2 separate regions of the Homo sapiens genome follow, and region 1 is linked to region 2. The links come from fine-mapping of genetic effects on gene expression. A gene starts in region 2. The other region holds a variant in brackets. All regions are shown on one strand. Distances are from middle to middle.

Region 1 (8,315 bases), 75 kb after region 2:
GCTTCGCCAAAGGAGCACTGGGTCCTGCGCAACAGCTCGGAGGCGCTGGGGTCCTAAGTTCCTGGCCCCACGGCGCACAGCTTCCCCACCGCACAGCCCCCAGCGTACAGGGCCCCTGCCGGCCGCCGCCTGCCCACCCTGCTTGCCGCCCACCGGTCCCCGCTCGGCCCCATCTCAGCCTCATCTCTGGGTTCTTTCCCTCGTCGAGGCCTCTTCGTTCATTTGTTTGTTTGTTCTCTTTCTCTCTCCTTCCCTCCCCTCCTCTTTCTCTCCCCCTTTTTTTTCTTTTTTCCTTTTTTTTTTTTTTTTTGTCTCTGTTCTGTGTACCCAGGCAGCCCATTGAGTAACTTCTTTGACGTAATTAAACAACTTTTTTCAGACGAGAAGAACGGGCAGGCGGCCCAGGCCCCCAGCACGCCCGCCAAGCGGAGTGCCCACGGCCCACTCGGTGACTCCGCGGCCGCTGGCCCTGGCCCCGGAGGGGACGCCGAGTACCCAACGGGCAAGGACACGGCCAAGATGGGCCCGCCCACCGCCCGCCGCGAGCAGCCTTAGACACACTAGCCCCCCCCCCCAGCACAGCACTGACAGCGGCTGCCTCGCCGCCCGCCGCCCGCCCTGCCCCGAGTGGACCCGCGGCCGCGCCGCCCGTCCGTCCAGACTGTTCTCAGAGCCTGGGAGGAAAGGAAAGGGGCGTTGGGGCCGGCCTGTGGGCTGCGCCACCCGCGCCCGCTCTCTTTTCTCTCTGTCTCTGCCTCTGCCTGTCTCTGACAGCATCGCTTGTTTCCACTCTGATACCAGGAATTATCCCGAAAAGTTAACATGTCACCTCCACGAGGCCATCCTCTGTGACCGAAGGCAGCTGCTGCGGACCCGCCCTCCCTCCGCTCCTGCTGTTGCTGCCGGGCAGTGAGGCCCAGCCCAGCGCCCCGTCCACCCCGCGGCAGCTCCTCGCCTCAGCTCCGCACGGCCCGTGGGAGGAAGGCCAGGCTCGGGGGAGCCTCCTCCAGCCCGGCCGACCCGGACTCCCGGTCACCTGACCCCTCAGCAAGAACAGCCTGCCTGGTGGCCTTCTGGGGCCAGGACCCCTGGTGGGCAACGTAGCCACAGGAACAGGCCCCGTCCACCGCCTCCACGCCGCACCTGGAGGCCTCCTCGCAGGCCCGTGCCCCGCCTCCCTGGCTGCGCCGCCTCCGTGTAGTCTTGGCCTCCTCAGGCTGCCTCCCGTCCTCTCGTCTCACCCGCGCCTCCCTTGCCTCATCTGGGGCGGCTGTGGGCTCTGGCGCTCCTCTCTGGCTGAGGTGGAAACAGAGACACCCTGCGGCACCAGAGCCTTCCCAGCAGGCCAGGCCGCTGGGCTGGGATCAGTGTTATTTATTTGCCGTTTTAATTTATGGATTCTCCGCACCTCTGTTCAGGGAAGGGCGGCGGCCACATCCCCTGCCGTCTGCGTGTCTCAGGCAGTGGGGGGGCTGGGGCCAGGGCGCCCTCTGAGGACAGAGCTGGTGGGGCGCGGGGGGGCTGGCGAGCTACTGTAAACTTTAAAGAATTCCTGCAAGATATTTTTATAAACTTTTTTTTCTTGGTGGTTTTTGGAAAAGGGTGTGGGGGTGGGGGCGCCGCTGGGGCAGGGCCAGGTTTTGTGTTTTAGTCCCTTGCTCCTGCTTCTTTCTACACACACATCTAAAGACGGTGCGGCTCGCTCTGTCATGGGTTCCGTCTCTCTGTGGAGAAGCAGCTCCACCTCTGGGGGGGCTCGGGGCAGAGGGGCGGTGTCTTGTAGCGGGCGGCAGCGCCAGCGCCCCTCTGTCAGGCTGGGGCAATCTTGGTTTTGTGTCCAAAGGTGAAGGGGTAGGAGGAGGGCCCTCAGCTGGCCCTCCCCACACACAGGACGGCAGGGGCACTGTGAGGCTTTTCTTATTAAAATGAAAAAATTGAAAAAAAAGGACAAAGAGTCGGTGGCGCTCCTCTGCAGGGCGTTCTGTGCAGAGCGAGGCCCAGGGCGCAGCCCTCAGAGGGCTGCAGGCCCACCCTGCCCAGTGCCCGCCGCCGTGCTTCACCCCAGCTCCAGCTTCTGTGTTCCCTTCCGCCCATGTGCCCAGCCCTCCCAGGCGGGCACAGCCCGGGTGCGGCGGCCGTGGGGGACGGCGGGTCTGATGCATGCCTCTGCCATGGAGTCGTCTGTCTGCTTCGGTGCCTGCCCCTGCCTCCCACCCACCTCGTGTATAGATTTTAACGCTTCTGTTAACATTAGACCTCTGCCACAGGCTGGGATTTCTATACATAAGAACAAAAGCAAACACCTAGGACAGCAAACGCCAGGCGGTACAGGCGGGAAGGGGCTCTCCACGGAGATCGAGGACACGAAGCAAACTGCCTCTTGCTTGCCTTCCCCTTTTGTGCTTCGGACACACGCGGACTCCAGCAGGCGCCACGGAAATGGGCAAGCCCCTGCAGTGTACCCCTGTCATAACTGTGAGCAGCTGCAGCTCCGGAACAATAAATCCCTTCCGCAAAGACAGCGACGCAGGTCTTCATCTGGGCAGGGCGGGCGCGCAGGGCTCTGTGACAGCCCGGGACAGCTTCTTGTTCCCCACTTGCAGCCCCTGGGCTGCGCCAGTGTGAATGCAGCTACCCTCTGCCCAGCTGAAGAGGGTGAGATTCCGGGCGGCCAAGGTCAGAGGTCACTTCCGATGTGTGGGGCCATCCCCCGAGGCTGCCCCAGCCTGAGGCGGGCTCCCGTTGAGGGCCAGGGCCTGGGCGGAGCTCTCTTTGCACGGCACCTCTGCCACCCCACAAGGCCTGCACGGCCACCCAGGGCCTGGGCCTTTTCCTGGAGAATGAGCCTTCTTCCCACTCCTTACTTGGGAAGGGTCCGGATAGGGTGCCATGACCCAGCCTTGGGAGTGAGGGGCCCAGGCTGAGCACAGCCCCTGGAGCTAGAGCGGGGATGGTCCCAGCCATACCTGCCACAGAGGGCAGCCAGGGCCGTGGGCTCCACTGGCACGACGCCCTGGCCCAGCTGCCCCTCTGCCGCCGCAGCAGAAGGGCAAGTCCAGGCCCATGCTGTGTGAGGCCAGTGGCCGGGAGTCCACCGCGGCCTGGAGGAGGCCAGCAGCAGGCCTCAGCAGGGTCCACGCAGAGACTGCGGCGTCCACAGAGCTGCCCTGGGAGGCCCACGCACACTTCCCTCCCACGTGAAGGACTCAGATGCGCCGGACTGCACCCAGCTGTCTATCATTGGAGCAGGTGCTAAGCACATGGCTGAGGGGGGAGATGATGATGGGGTGGGGGCCACATCCCTGGTCTCAGCCCAACAGAAGCTAGTAGCTGTCCCACCTCCATTGTGACAAAACGTCCCCAGACATTGCCATGAGTCTCCTGGTAGGGGACAGAATCACCCCCAGGTGAGAGCCACTGCCCTGAACTTCAAGCTGTGCCTGTACCCATCTCTCTGGAGGGAGCCAGGGGGTCACCATGTTAGTCAGGCTTAGTTAGCTCAGGGCTCCGCTCAGAGCCCAGGACACAGAGGGAAGCTGAGCCGTCCTCTGTTTGACCCTGGACTGCCAAGTGGCTGAGCTCACAGGAGGTTGGTACCCTGAAGAGAAGGCACTTGGGAGGGGCCCAGGGAATCAGGATCCATTCCAATCCCTGGATTACAGTTTCCCAGTTCATTTTACCTTAAGAAACAGGCTGAGGAAAGGAATTTGGCTGCTACGGTTCAGTGAGGCACAGGACAGTCTGTGGGGTCGCAGGCTACTGGCCCTGGACCGGAAGCCTTCCTGACCTGTGGTCCTGCACCTGCTTCTCTGAGAGCGGCTGACACACGCACTCCTGGCCCTCCTCTAAACATTCACGGTGAGAAGTCAGCCTTCTCAGGCCCATGACTGGAGGCCCAAAAGGAAACAGTGTGTCAAGAGTCCTGCCAGCTCCCCACTGCTCAGGAAGGGGCTGTGTCCTGCAGTCCCACTTCTGACACCAAGCTCTCTTGGTTGTAAGTAACAGAACCCAAAGCGAGCTAAGCCAGAATCTGCTGGTTTATATAAAAAATGAAAACAAATATGGCAGGACTTCTGATGTGGCAGACACTAGT[C/T]TCACTTTACACCAGTCGGTCCTCACATCATTTCTATGAAGAAATTAAAATGGAGATTGAAAAAGGATGTGGTGGCCGGTCTGCCCACCTAGAGGATGGCTTCACAGTCCTGGTCCTCAGTTCCCAGGTGGCTAATCCGACGGACACATCTGGGCTCAGAGCCTGCCACGGCCTGGCCTGAGAGCTAGGGCCCTGGTGAACGAGCCGACTGGTGAGCCCACCCATGGGATGGCAGGTGGGTGGCGGGGGACGACAGTCTGACCCACCTCCTGTACAGGATGCAGGTGGGAGGTGGGTGCTCCAGGGAGGGGCCCTGCACACAGCAGTCCAGGCCTAGGTCTGCTCCATGGGGAGCCTGCCCTGGGCTTTTCCGTCAGCTGAAGGCAGAGGCACAGAGCCCCAGCCTCCTAAGCTATAAGATGGAACAATTCCTGGTGTCACAAAGCCTCAGAGCTTGCAGGAGGCTGATGCCCGCATGCCAGCTTCAAGGTGGGGCGTTCCAGCTGCCCTGCTCCCATCCCGCCAGGGAGCTCACCACAGGTGGACTGGCCCTGCCTCCCCGTCCTGCCTGCCTCCTGCCCTCCAGTGGTGTGGTGCCCAGGCCCTCTGCCCTAAGTCCAGTGCCTCCCCACTCACTCCAGTGACTTCTCCCCATCCCACCCCAACTCCCTACCACCAACCCAAGTCTCTTGGTGTGATCTGGCAAGGGGTCGGGGTCAGCAGAGAGCCAGAGAGGAGGAGGCCAGCAACAGGAGGGAGAACCAGTGGCGACTTTCCAGGCAGCGGGGCCTGCTGGAGAGCGGGCAGGGCTGACAGACGTGCAGGGAACACTACCCGGGGAGCCACGTTCGTGCCAGCCAGACTGGCACAGTCTACACTGTGGGTCTCATGCCGGGGAGTTGGGCCCTCTTGTGCACCTGCCCCCAGGACCCTGTAAGAACGCCTTGGCCTGCTTGGTAGATGCATTGTCTCCTGTGGTTTCCTATCACCGCCATAGTTACCGCAAAGTAAGAAGCTTAAAACACCAATACCTCACAGTCCCAGAGTCAAGGACTGGGCAGGTCTCACTCAAGGGGTGCCCTGGTCTAGAATCAAGGTGTGCTCCTCCTGGAGGCTCCAGGGGAGGACCTGTGGCCGCCTGCATCCCGTGGCCTGGGGTCTCCACCTTCGCAGCCAGGAGCGTGGGTGGAGCCTCCTCACAGCTGTGTCCTGCGCATCCCAACCTGCGTCCAGCTTCCACGATGAAGGCCTCGTGCTCTCACTGGGCCCAGACCATCTCTGCCTCTCAAGGTCAGCTGATTGCCTTAATCCCATCGCTGCTTTCATTCCCCTTTGCTGCTGGGTGGCACGTTCACTTCCATGGGACTAGATGTGGACATCACCAGTGGTAAGGGATGTCTCAGGCCGAACGCAGTACCCTCCCACTCCCGCTGCTTCACACCCATCCCACGTGCAAATGCATCCCTCCCCTCACGGCCCCAACAGTCTCCACCAAACACAGCACCCAGTCCAGTCCCAAACCTCACGTACAGCTCATCAGCTCACAAGTCGCAAGTCGCACCCTCTAAGCTACCCCGATCAGGTATGGGTGACACTCTGGGCATTCCACCCTGGGGCAGTTTCCTCTCCATCTGTGGACCCCGAAAGCTAGAAAACCAGTTACCTGCTCCCAAAATACGACCAGAGAACAGACGCGGAATGCCAGTCACAGACACTCCTGTTTTCAAGGAAAGTTTGGCTGGGTGTGACGGTCCAGCACTTTGGGAGGCTGAGACAGAAAGGATCACCTGAGTCCAGGGGTTCAAGACCAGCCTGGGTAGTGAAACTTCAACTCTACAAAATATTTCAAAATCAGCCGGGCGTGGTGGCTCGCACCTGTGGTGCTGGCTACTCAGGAGTCTGAAGGGGGAGGACCCCTTGAGCCCGGAAGTCTGAGGCTGCAGTGAGCTAGGATTACCCAGCACTCCAGTTTGGGTGACGGTGAAACCCAGTCATTTATATGTGCATACACACACACACACACGTGACACACAGAGAAAGCTGCAAGGTGCTTGTGTCGCTGCTCCCAAGAAATCCAAAATCCAGCTGGGTACACTTCCTCCGTCCCAGCAAGGCCTGGGAACTCCTTCTGTGGGTCCCAACTCTGCCTCTGTGCTGACACCTCCACCCTCAGGGCCATGCTCTCTATTTATGAAACGTAGCAAGTGTTTGCAGCTGAACAGTTTAGTCTGCTTCCTGCCTGCTGATTTTTGGGGCTCAAGAGCCTTTCATCACATCCCCTCTGCCTCAGTCCAAGCCAGCTGAGTTTCTGATGGTTTAAGAGCCTCTCGTGGTTCCCACAGGGCTTCACCGGATCCGTAAGACCCAAGGCTCGTCCACAGACCCAAGGCTCGTCCACAGACCTCCCACAGCGGTCCCTGCTTTGAGCATCTGCTTGGGTGACCCGGGGCATCCACCAGCCACAGGCTCGCCCTCCTCCAGGAGCTCTTGGTGTGGCCGTTACTCTGAGCACACATTCCTGACAGTGAATCTCCTGACATCAGCATCTTCAGCTGAGAATTCCCGATGGCAGGGTGCTCACCCCTCTGCTAATGTCCTTCTCTCACTTAGTGGCCAACCTGAGCAGCGCAAGGGGCCCAGGCTGACCACCCTCGAGTGCTGCCCGCACGTGGCAACGGGACAGAGTGCAGCTGCACCTCTGCCCCCATGGACGGGGCTCTCCCTGGCTCCCGTTCTTTCCTTTCCCTCTGAGCTCCCACCTGCACCTTTAACCCCACATGTCCGAGGACGGGCGGGTCAGAGGGGCTCTGACTCTTCTCAGAGCCCAGGCTGGTTCCTCCGAGCCCCTCGAGCCCCGCTCGCCTCCATCCTTCTACCACCTGTTTAACAACATCACGGGCTTTTTCTATCACCCTCAAAATTCTTTCAGCCCAATTCCAAAGCCACTTCCACCTTTCTAGGTATTTGCTACAGCAGTGCCTCATGCCTAGAACCAAAATCTGCCTTCATCTCCTGTTGCTGCAGTTGCCATGAACTTCGTGGCTGGAGGCAAAATGAACTTACCTCAAACGGACCTCACCGGGCTAGTCTGCAGGGCCAGTTCTTTCTGGGTGCCTTCCTTTCCCAGCTTCTAGGAGCTGCCTGCACTGCTGACTCAGGCCCTTCCCACGCCGCGCTGTCTTCCTCCGCTGCCTCCCTGCTCAGTGCCCTTGGCTCTCCTGACAACACTGGGCCCATCCAGATAACCTCCCCTTCCTCAGGTCAGTGACCGGGAACCTGATTCCATCTGCAGCTTCCATCCTGCTGTGCTATCTAAGGAGACAGTCTCTTAGGATTAGGACACGGATCTCTTTTGGAGACCATCATTCTGCCTTTCAGAACACAGACCATAGATAGAGACTTAGTGAGCCATGGCTGCAGCTGGGGGCGAGGCTGAGCCCTCAACACTGAGACCCCCCTCAGTGTACAGGCCTCCTGTTCACGGAGGGAAACGGAGGCAGAGGCAGGAAGGCTTGACCAGGACTCCAGGTCTTACAGCAAGAACCCATCCCAGTGGAGGACAGCGCACAGCACAGTCCCCTCAGCCCAGGAGAGGGACAGGTCCACCAGACAATGGCCTAGCAGCAGGCGCCCCCAACGCCCAGCGCCAGCCCTCATCCCAGGCACCCTTCCCAAAGGAACTCATGCCCGCGACTCCCACGTGCCCTGGGGACCCTGCAGCTGCATCCTGAGTGTGAGACCGGCACGAATGCGCGCCCTGGACACCTCCTAAGGCCGTCCCACGGGCTCCACACACGCTCCATCTGAGGCTGCCTTGGAGGCTCTGGCTGGAATCCCGGTGTCCTCCTAGCCCCTTCAGCCCCAGTGGAGCTGGCCCCCAGCCCCCTGTGCCCTACAGCACTCTCAGTCCAATCTTCCACCCAGCCTCCGCTCGGCAGCCAGGCCCCAGGTTCGCCAGCACACAGCGACCCAGGCTGTGTGCCAGGCTGGCTCCCTGTGGCCTCAGCCAGGAGCTCCCTGCACACCCTAGACGGGGCCTCAGCCAGAGGGTGGCCCCACCAGGCCACCCGCCCCTGTTCTTGCCCTCCCTCGCCGGGGGACCTCCTTGCTACCTAGGCCAGCGCCGGTCCCTGCCTCAGGTTCCTACGCTCAGCCCCTTCAGTCAAGTTCTGTGGGTGTCCTGGGGCCTCCACTCTGGGGGTCCACGCAGAGCATCAGAAGA
Region 2 (8,315 bases):
GTGTGTAGCCATGCCTGGCTATTTTATTTTTATTTTTCATAGAGATAATGTGTTAGGCTGTTCTTGTGTTGCTATAAATACCTGAGACTGGTAGTTTATTTTAAAAAGAGGTTTAATTGGCTTATGGTTCTGCAGGCTGTAAAGGAAGCATGGCATCCGGAAGCTTCCAATAACGGTGGAAGGCAAAGGGGGAGCAGGGGTCTCACACGGCAGAAGTGGGAGCAAGAGAGAGTGGGAGGGGAGGCTCCCACTTAACCAGATCTCACGAATACTCACCATTGCAAGGACAGCACCAAGCCCCGAGGAATCCACCCCATGACCAAAACATCTCCCAGCAGGCCCCATCTCCAACACTGAAGATTCCATTTCAACATATGTCTGGGCGGGGACAAATACCCAAACTATATCAGATGGAGTCTTGCTATGCTGCCCAGGCTGGTCTCAAATTCCTGGGCTCAAGCTATCCTCCCACCTTGGCCTTCCAAAGTGCTGGCAGTACAAGCATGAGCCACTGCACCTGGCAGCTTGTCAATTTCTAAAAAAAAAAAAAAAAAAAAAGAGAAAATTTAAAAAATCAAATTAAAATTAAATCGATTACTTGGGCCTTGTTAAGTCTCACTTAATATACTGAGAGATGTATAATCGTTTTTTGTGTACAGATCTCATGCAAATTCTGATAAATTTACCCCTAGTATTTCGTGGTTTTTAAATTCTCTTTGTAAGTGGTACTGTTTTCATAATTTCAACTTCTAATTGATGGTTAGCACACAAATAGAATTGACCTTTTTTTGGCTTTGTACCCTGTGGCTTTGGTAAACTTACTTATTCGTTTTAGTACCAGTTTGTAGCTTAGAATTTTCTGCAGACAATAATGTTATCTTCTTGTTTTACTTTCTGACATGGAGTTTTGCTCTTGTTGCCCAGGCTGGAGTGCAATGGCATGATCTCGGCTCACTGCAAACTCTGCCTCGTGGGTTCAAGCGATTCTCCTGCCTGAGCCTCCTGAGTAGCTGGGATTACAGGTGCCCATCACCAAACCCAGCTAATTTTTGTATTTTTAGTAGAGACAGGGTTTCACCAGGTTGGCCAGGCTGGTCTCGAACTCCTGACCTCAGGTGATCTGCCCGCCTCAGCCTCCCAAAGTGCTGGGATTACAGACGTGAGCCACCGTGCCCGGCCATTAATGTTATCTTCTAATAAAGATCACCTAAAATTTCCTTTTTGGCTGGGCACGGTGGCTCACGCCTGTAATCCCAGCACTTTGGGAGGCCGAGGCGGGTGGATCATGAGGTCAGGAGATCGAGACCATCCTGGCTAACACGGTGAAACCCCGCCTCTACTAAAAATAAAAAAAAATTAGCCGGGCGTGGTGGCGGGCACCTGTAGTCCCAGCTACTTGGGAGGCTGAGGCAGGAGAATGACGTGAACCCGGGAGGCGGAGCTTGCAGTCAGCCGAGATCGGGCCATTGCACTCCAGCCTGGGCGACAGAGCAAGACTCCATCTCAAAAAAAAAAAAAAAATAATAATAATAATAAAAAATTTCCTTTTCAACTGGTACAAATTTTGTCTTCCTTGCCTCATTACTTCGGCATGTACTCTGGCACGACACTGAAATAAATGATGATGATGGACAACCTTGCCCCATCCCTGACCCAAGGAAAAGCTTTCAGTTTCTCACCACTAAGCCTGACATTAGCTGTGGGTTTTTGTAGTTTCCCTTTGTTGGGTTGGGAGTGCAGGAGCAGAATAGATTCGAATCTTCTCCTCCTGGTTTACTGAGAGCCTTTGTCGTGAATGAGTGCTGAATTTTGTTGAATGCTTTCCTTGCATCTGTGGAAATGACCGTGTGGTTTTTCTGTGTTGGTCTGCTAATAGTGAATGACAATTGATTTTGAAATGTTAAACTAACTTTGCATTCCCGGGTACGCTCCACAAGGTCATATGTGTTCTCTTTATATATTGCTGGAATTGATTTGATGTTTTGTTAAGGGATTTTTGTGTCTAGGCTCCTGAGTGGACTTTAATTTTCTTGTCATGTCCTTGCATGGTTTTGGCACCAGGGTGATGACAGTTTCACAGAGGAGCTGGGACATGGCCCGTCTTCCTCTGTGTCCTGGAAGTGTCTGTGTAGCGGGGTGCTTTTCCTCCATTAGTGTTTGGTGGGCTCCACTGGTGAGTCTTGGCCTGGACGTCTTTGTGAGACTGGGCCCTTTCCTAACTCCGGCAACAGACCTTCGTGCTCGAGAGCCCTGGCTCCTTTGGGGCTCCTGCTCCCACCTTACACGCGACAGAGGGGGACCGAGGGCTGTGGCATCACAGTCGTGGGCATCTACTGGCTGGCCACACCCTGGTACACCCTCTCCTGGGGCACCCCAGTACCAGGCCCGCTGGAAGGAAGGGCAGTCATCCTGTTGATCCCCACAAAGATGGCAGCAGGGAGGGCGCGGCGTGCTATGGAGAAGGCGTTGAGTCTGGGGTTTTGTGCAGCACCTTCAAGAGGGGACAGCAGGGCCAAGGGAGGCTGGGAGGGCGATTTGAGGATAGGCACTCAAGAGGCTGAAGGCTGACTAGCCTCTTGCGCCCGGAGGACAGGCAGGGAGCCAGAAGAGAGGCCCCAGACTGAGCCCCAGAGGCCACCAATGGCATAGGCTGCTCAGACACAGACAGGGAAGAAAAGGCCTCAGGGCTGCAGTGAGGGTTGGGAGAGGGATGCAGGCTGGCAAGGAGGTGGGAAGGAAGAAAGCAAGAATTTTGGCCACTGGAGTAGCCGGATGCAAACGGTCAATAGGGCAAAATGCTGCTGAGGATGTCACAAAGGTGCGTCTGACTCTGCTGCAGCCTGGGAGGCCAGGTGACCATGGCAGCAGAGAGAGGGCATCTCAGGTCAAGTGCCCCTGCCCTCTGGCTGTGGCCTGACGCCCTCTCCTGGTCTCCTGCACACCCTCGGCCTCTGTTGGCACCTGGACCAGACCACTCCCAGTCAGCCTCCAGCCAGACCTCACTGCTTGACAGTTTCTCCAGCTGGAGGTCCCAGTCTACATTCAGCTAAAAATGTCTGCTGTCCCCACTCACAGCAGCAGCAGCGGGGGAAAGGGGAGTGCCCTCTGCCTCTGTCCCATGCTCTCAGCCCCCCTCCCCTGCCCCCACTGGTGGGGCCCTGATTGCTCATGCTCAGAGGCCCCAGAATTGGGTAGGGAGGACCCTTAGTCCACAGCATTTGAAGGGAAGCAGGGCGGGCGGGTGCAGGCCGAGAGTGGACAGGTGCTTTGGGGCCCACTCCCCTCCCCAGCTGGAAATACAGACAGCCCAAAGAGCAGGAGGGCGCACTGGGAAGACCCCGCAGTTTCCTGAGCTCATACGGGCTTACCAGCGTGGGGAGCGGACCACGGTCAGCAGCAGTGTGTGGCAGAGCCCGCAGGGGAAACGTTGCCCGCAGACCATACACGGGCAAGATCTGGGACCCCCACTTCTGCAGCGTTCCGGGTCTCCCTCACCTCTCCCCTCCCACCACCTTCTGCAGCACGGGCTTAAGGAAATACCAGTGTTTTTCTGCAAAGAAACAGAGGGTCCGTCCAGGTCTGGCTGCCTCTTCGGCTGCCTGTGTTTAGACCTCCAAAGGCTGCTCCCGGCAACCCCTGCCCAGCTGCTCAACCTGAAAGAGGGGTCGGTAGCAAGGGCCGGGAGGCGCCAGGGCGCTGCGGCCGGATCCCAGGTGAGTTCCTTGACTCCGCGCCGCGCAGGTCACTGTGGCATAACTGGGAAAACCGCCGCTTCTCCCTCGGGAGCGGAGGCGGAGGGCCACGTCCTCCCTGGGGGTGCACAATCTCTGCTTGGACAACGCCCGCGTGCAGTAGCCCCACAGACTCCCATGCAGCCCCCCCGCCACGTGTGCCGCATCCGCGCCCTGCATGCAACACCCGCCCCCTCCAGCGCAGCATGCCCCTCGCTGGCGTGCAGCACCCCCCATGTGTGCAGCACCCCTGCCCCGAATACAGCACCTCTCCCCAGTACAGCACTCCCGCCCCGCATGCAACACTCGCCCCCCTCCAGGGCAGCATCCCCATCCCCCGCGCGTGCAGCACCCCCTCGAGGGGCGGGAAACTCTTTGGGACACCCGGGGTCACGCCCTGCAGGGTAAAACCCCCGTCCAGGGCAGCCATCTGCACCCCCTCGCCATGGGCCCACTGCCTGCTCCGTCCCGGGATGCGCCTTAATGGCGGGTCGGGCGGCAGCGGGAGCTCTGCTGCCTGGTGGGACCGGACGTGGCAGCCGGCGGGCTGGAGGCTCCCAGGTCCCGGCCTCGCCCTGGCCTCGCCTCGCCCCCTAGAGTCTCCCCGAGCGCTCGTAGCGGCGGGGCGGGGTGGGGAGGCGCTGATTGGCCGGCGCGGGCACCGCTTGCCGCCGCCACGGCATCCCGCTGCGTTCGTACAGGCTCGTGTCGACTCGGCTCCGTTGCGCGGCCCGGCTCGGCTCCCCTCAGCTGCGCTCGACTCCGCTGTTCGGCTCGGCTGTTCGGCTTGGCTACAGGGCTCGGCTGTTCGGCTTGGCTACATGGCTCGGCTGCGCGGCTCGGCTCTGTTCGGCTCGGCTCGGCTGCTGGGCTCGGCTGTTCGGCTCAGCTGCGCGGCTCGGCTCGTCTCGGCTCTGTTCGGCTCGGCTCGGCTGCTGGGCTCGGCTGTTCGGCTCAGCTGCACGGCTCGGCTCGGCTCGGCTCGGCTCGGCTGCGCGGCCGCTGACGGGCGTGCGCTGGGGGCGCGGGGCGCGGGGCGCGGGCCTCGGCGGCGGCGGCGGCGGCGGCGGCGGAAGCCAGGTGCCCCCGCCCGCCCTGTCCTCTCGACGAGGCGGAGGCGTCGCCGCGGGCCAGGCCTCGGACTGCCGCGTCGGAGTGGACGCGGGGGGCGGCGGCGCGGGCGGACGCGGGCGGCGCGAAGCAGCGGGGCCCGCGGGGGCGCCCCGGCCGGGTCGGCGCGGACGGCACTCGGCGGACGCGGGCGGACGCTGGGCGGCCCCTCCCTGCCCGCGCGCCCGGGCGCCCCTGGCCGGCGCCGGGCCCCAGAGCGATGACATCGACGGGGAAGGACGGCGGCGCGCAGCACGCGCAGTATGTTGGGCCCTACCGGCTGGAGAAGACGCTGGGCAAGGGGCAGACAGGTGCGTGCGGCCGGGGCGGGGACCGGGGCCGGGGAGGCCGCGCTGGCAGCGCGCTGGGTGGGGGGCGCCCGAGGGAGGCCCCGGCCGCGAAGCCGCAGGCCCGGCCCGGGCCCCGGCCGCGAACAATGGGCGGCCCGTGCGCCCCCGTCCGCTCGTGCGCCCCGGTTCCGCCGCGGATCCCGCAGGCCGCTTGGCTGCGGTCGGCCGGGCGCGGCCCAAGGACACGCGGCGCGGCGCGGGGCGCGCAGGCGGACAGGGGCGCACGGGACGGCGCCCCTCGGGCCCCGCTGCAGGTGCGCGGCCCGGGCCGCATTGTGCGCCCCAGCGACCGGGCCCATTGTGCCGCGGGAGGAGGGGGCCGCGCGGGCGCCCATCTGCCGTCTGCCGCGGCCGCGCTAATAGGCGTGCTGCCCGAGCAGCTGCGCCCCCGGCGGGACTCCCACCTCCGCGCGCCGGCCACCGGGGCCTCCGGGCAGGCCCGATCTCCCTCCGCGGTGGGGGCGGGAGAGTGCGGGGACCTGCAGAGGGCTGGACAGCGCCTTGCGCTGCTCCGGCTCGGGCTCGGGCGGGCGGAGCGTCTGTGACCTGCATTCCCACGGGGCAGGGAGAGGCCATTGGTGCTGGGACCAGAAGTGCGTGGGACCTGACCCGTGGAGCAGCCCCGCGGCCTGCCGGTGGAGGGGGCTTCCCGGTGGGGCCTGGCTGTCATTCTAGGGAACAGGCCGGGTCCCTGCGGGGCCGAACCCAGGCCAGAGGCAACCCAGCTACCCTCGCATGTGGCCAACTCTCCCCGGCCCGCTGGGTTTGGCTAGCCCTTCATCTGGTCAGGCACATTCACAGAGTCGCCTTTGTGGAGGCTGGGGCTCAGCCATTTTCTTTCTTCTCTCAGGACCGGCCTGTCTCTTGGTGTCCCCGAGGTCCCACGGCACTGCCTCTCCCTTCCAATCCGAGAAGTTCCTTAGACCCGGGCGGGCAGGGGTGGAGGGAAGGAGGAGGAGAGCGCTGGTGCAGGGTGGAGGCTCAGCCCCTCACGGCTGCACAGAGGAGGAGCTGGGAGGTGGCGTTGGGGAAAGAAAGTGGGCCAGGCCCAGGCTCTTGGGGGAGGGCCGTGGCTGTGATGTAACTACGGCAGAGCTGCAGGAAGGGGTTTAGACTGAGGGGTTCAGGGGAGCTGCCTCACCTTGGGTGCACAGCCTTCCGCCACCCGCCACGGCACGGAAGGGCCCCTGGCCACAGGGCAGGACCTGGGCAGGTGGGGTGGTGCAGCCTGGGTTGGAGAAGGAGGTGGCATTCAGCCCATGTCACCTGAGTTCAAAATTCTCGTCTTTCCCGGAAAGAAAAACTAGTGTGTGAAATCCGTGGTGAAGGAGGGGCCCAGGGCAGCAGGATGCAGGAGTCAGTGAGATAATCCAATTACGGTCCCAATAAAATGTTATTATAAGGAAACATCTGCGTGTAAATGAAGACACGATGAGTTATGTGCTGTGCGCGGCCTCGGTGGGTAGGGGCTGGTCTCCACTCTTCATGGCATTCTGCTGGCGGCAGTTAATTACGGGAGGTTTCCACTGTAATTAACAGTAATGAATACAAAAGGATGGGCTGTGTGTGTCTACAACGTGCTGAGAGAGATATTTAGAAAACAGCTCGAGGGGGGGCACAAAGCGGCCCCTCTCTCCCGAGTTATGACGGGCAGAGCGCAAGCGTGTCACCGGGAGGGCCCTGGAGAAGGCCACCATTTCTGTGCGTCTTCTGTTGCTGCTGCTGAAGGGTCACCAGGAGTTGGGTGGACATGGGGCCTGGAGTGTGTGTGCTGGGCCACTTGGCACCAGATGCCAGGAGAGCTGCCAGGTCCCAAGCTCAAGAGGGAGATAGGCTTCCTGCCAGGAGACCTCCGTGGGAGAACGGGAGGCTGGGCTTCTGGCCGCCACCACCCGAGGACGATCTGATCCTGCCGTTGAGAACGCTTCTCCTTCCAGGGACCTGGCCACAGGGGAGCTGTGGAGGCCTTGCTTGGGGGGCCATTGGTGTGGACGCGACTCCAGCCCCTTCCCCGTGTCTGTGGCTGGCAGCTTTGTTTGGCCCTCTCTGTTCATCTCTCTCAGCCTGAGACCTTGGAAGGAGGAGCTGCTCGACTTGAGGTGGCCACTGAGAGGGAGGTGGTCAGTGGCAGTGGCAGTGAGCCTTGTGGTGCCACGAGAGCCCTTCCACCCGGCTGACCCAAGCTGGGGCCTGCTGGACGGTGGGCCAAAGATGTGGTCCGAAACCTGCCCTTGGGGAGTCTGGCCGTGTGGGGAGGGGAGACCACGCAGCACCCCCACCGGGGCCTGGAGGACGCCCTTCTAGACGCCGCAGGGTCCGGTCGGCTGTCTTCTTCTGCCTTTCAGCGTGAGCGCTGCATGGTCTCACCTGTACGGCACCTCCCTGTCTTGTTGGGTCTGTGCGTCCTGCAGGGCCAGTGTGGCTGTAGGGTCGTCCTTCTGCATGGGGCGTCCTCTGCACAGCTCCCCTCGGTGGCTGTGGGGGTTGCCTTCAGTGGTCTCACTGCCGGTGCCAGGCACCAGGTGAAGCCGTCAGAGCACTGAGCATCTGTGGAAGCCTCCTCGCCGGCTGCTTGGTGGTTTCTGGCCAAGACTTAGGGGGATGTAGGCTGGGGTTGGGGTGGGAACCCACCTGCAAAGGTGCTGCCTTAGCTTTTCTTGGGGCTGAGAAAGGCTTGTGTAGCCTCATCTGAGCTTGACCCCTGCAGAGATGCCGAGACACAGTCCCTGCCAGCAAGGGCAACCATGGAGGTTGGAGGGCGCAGACACTCCGAGTTGGAGCATGCAGGTCCAGGAGGGTGTGTGGCACGGGCTGGGTGGCTTTTGTCCCTGCGCGCCTTTGTCCCTGTGCCCCATCAGTACGTGGAGCAGGGCACCTTCTTGCCCAAACCTCGGCTTAGCTCCTGAAATCTGGGAGGCCTGGGAGGGCCCTGTGGGAGGAGCTGGAGAACCTCGGGCCCTTGGAGCTGTTCTTGGGGGCAGGCGGGTGGGCTGCATGGGACGATGAGGGGCCTGCCTTCGGGAATCCTCTGTCTGGGGGGCGGGAGAAAGGAATAATGGCCGCGATAGGGCTCCCTGCGAGGGAACGAAGGAGCTAGGATGAGGGGCTGCCCTGCAGCTCACCT

Direction of the effects. Alleles are on the strand shown, and positions count from the first base shown. SD is a standard deviation of normalised expression in the study named.
In carriers of allele T in region 1, the expression in sun-exposed skin of the gene that starts at base 4,711 in region 2 tends to be lower than with C alone (moderate effect, 0.49 SD a copy in GTEx).

What was found. PIP is the estimated chance that this variant, and not a neighbour inherited with it, causes the effect. A credible set is the group of variants that fine-mapping cannot tell apart.
Region 1: its variant is the best candidate, but not a certain one, in a credible set for the expression of BRSK2 in sun-exposed skin (GTEx, PIP 0.86).

Annotation. Positions count from the first base shown.
Region 1 is chr11:1,460,169-1,468,483 of GRCh38, forward strand. It overlaps BRSK2 (BR serine/threonine kinase 2), which reads left to right. Exons shown (of 20, transcript NM_001256627.2): 20 at 332-2,521. The coding sequence ends at 555. Among named protein-coding and RNA genes, the nearest start is that of MOB2, 22 kb to the right of the region's middle. The variant C/T (reference allele first, on the strand shown) is at 4,094.
Region 2 is chr11:1,385,224-1,393,538 of GRCh38, forward strand. BRSK2 (BR serine/threonine kinase 2) reads left to right here and starts at 4,711. Exons shown (of 20, transcript NM_001256627.2): 1 at 4,711-5,152. The coding sequence starts at 5,062. RefSeq lists a silencer at 4,108-4,477.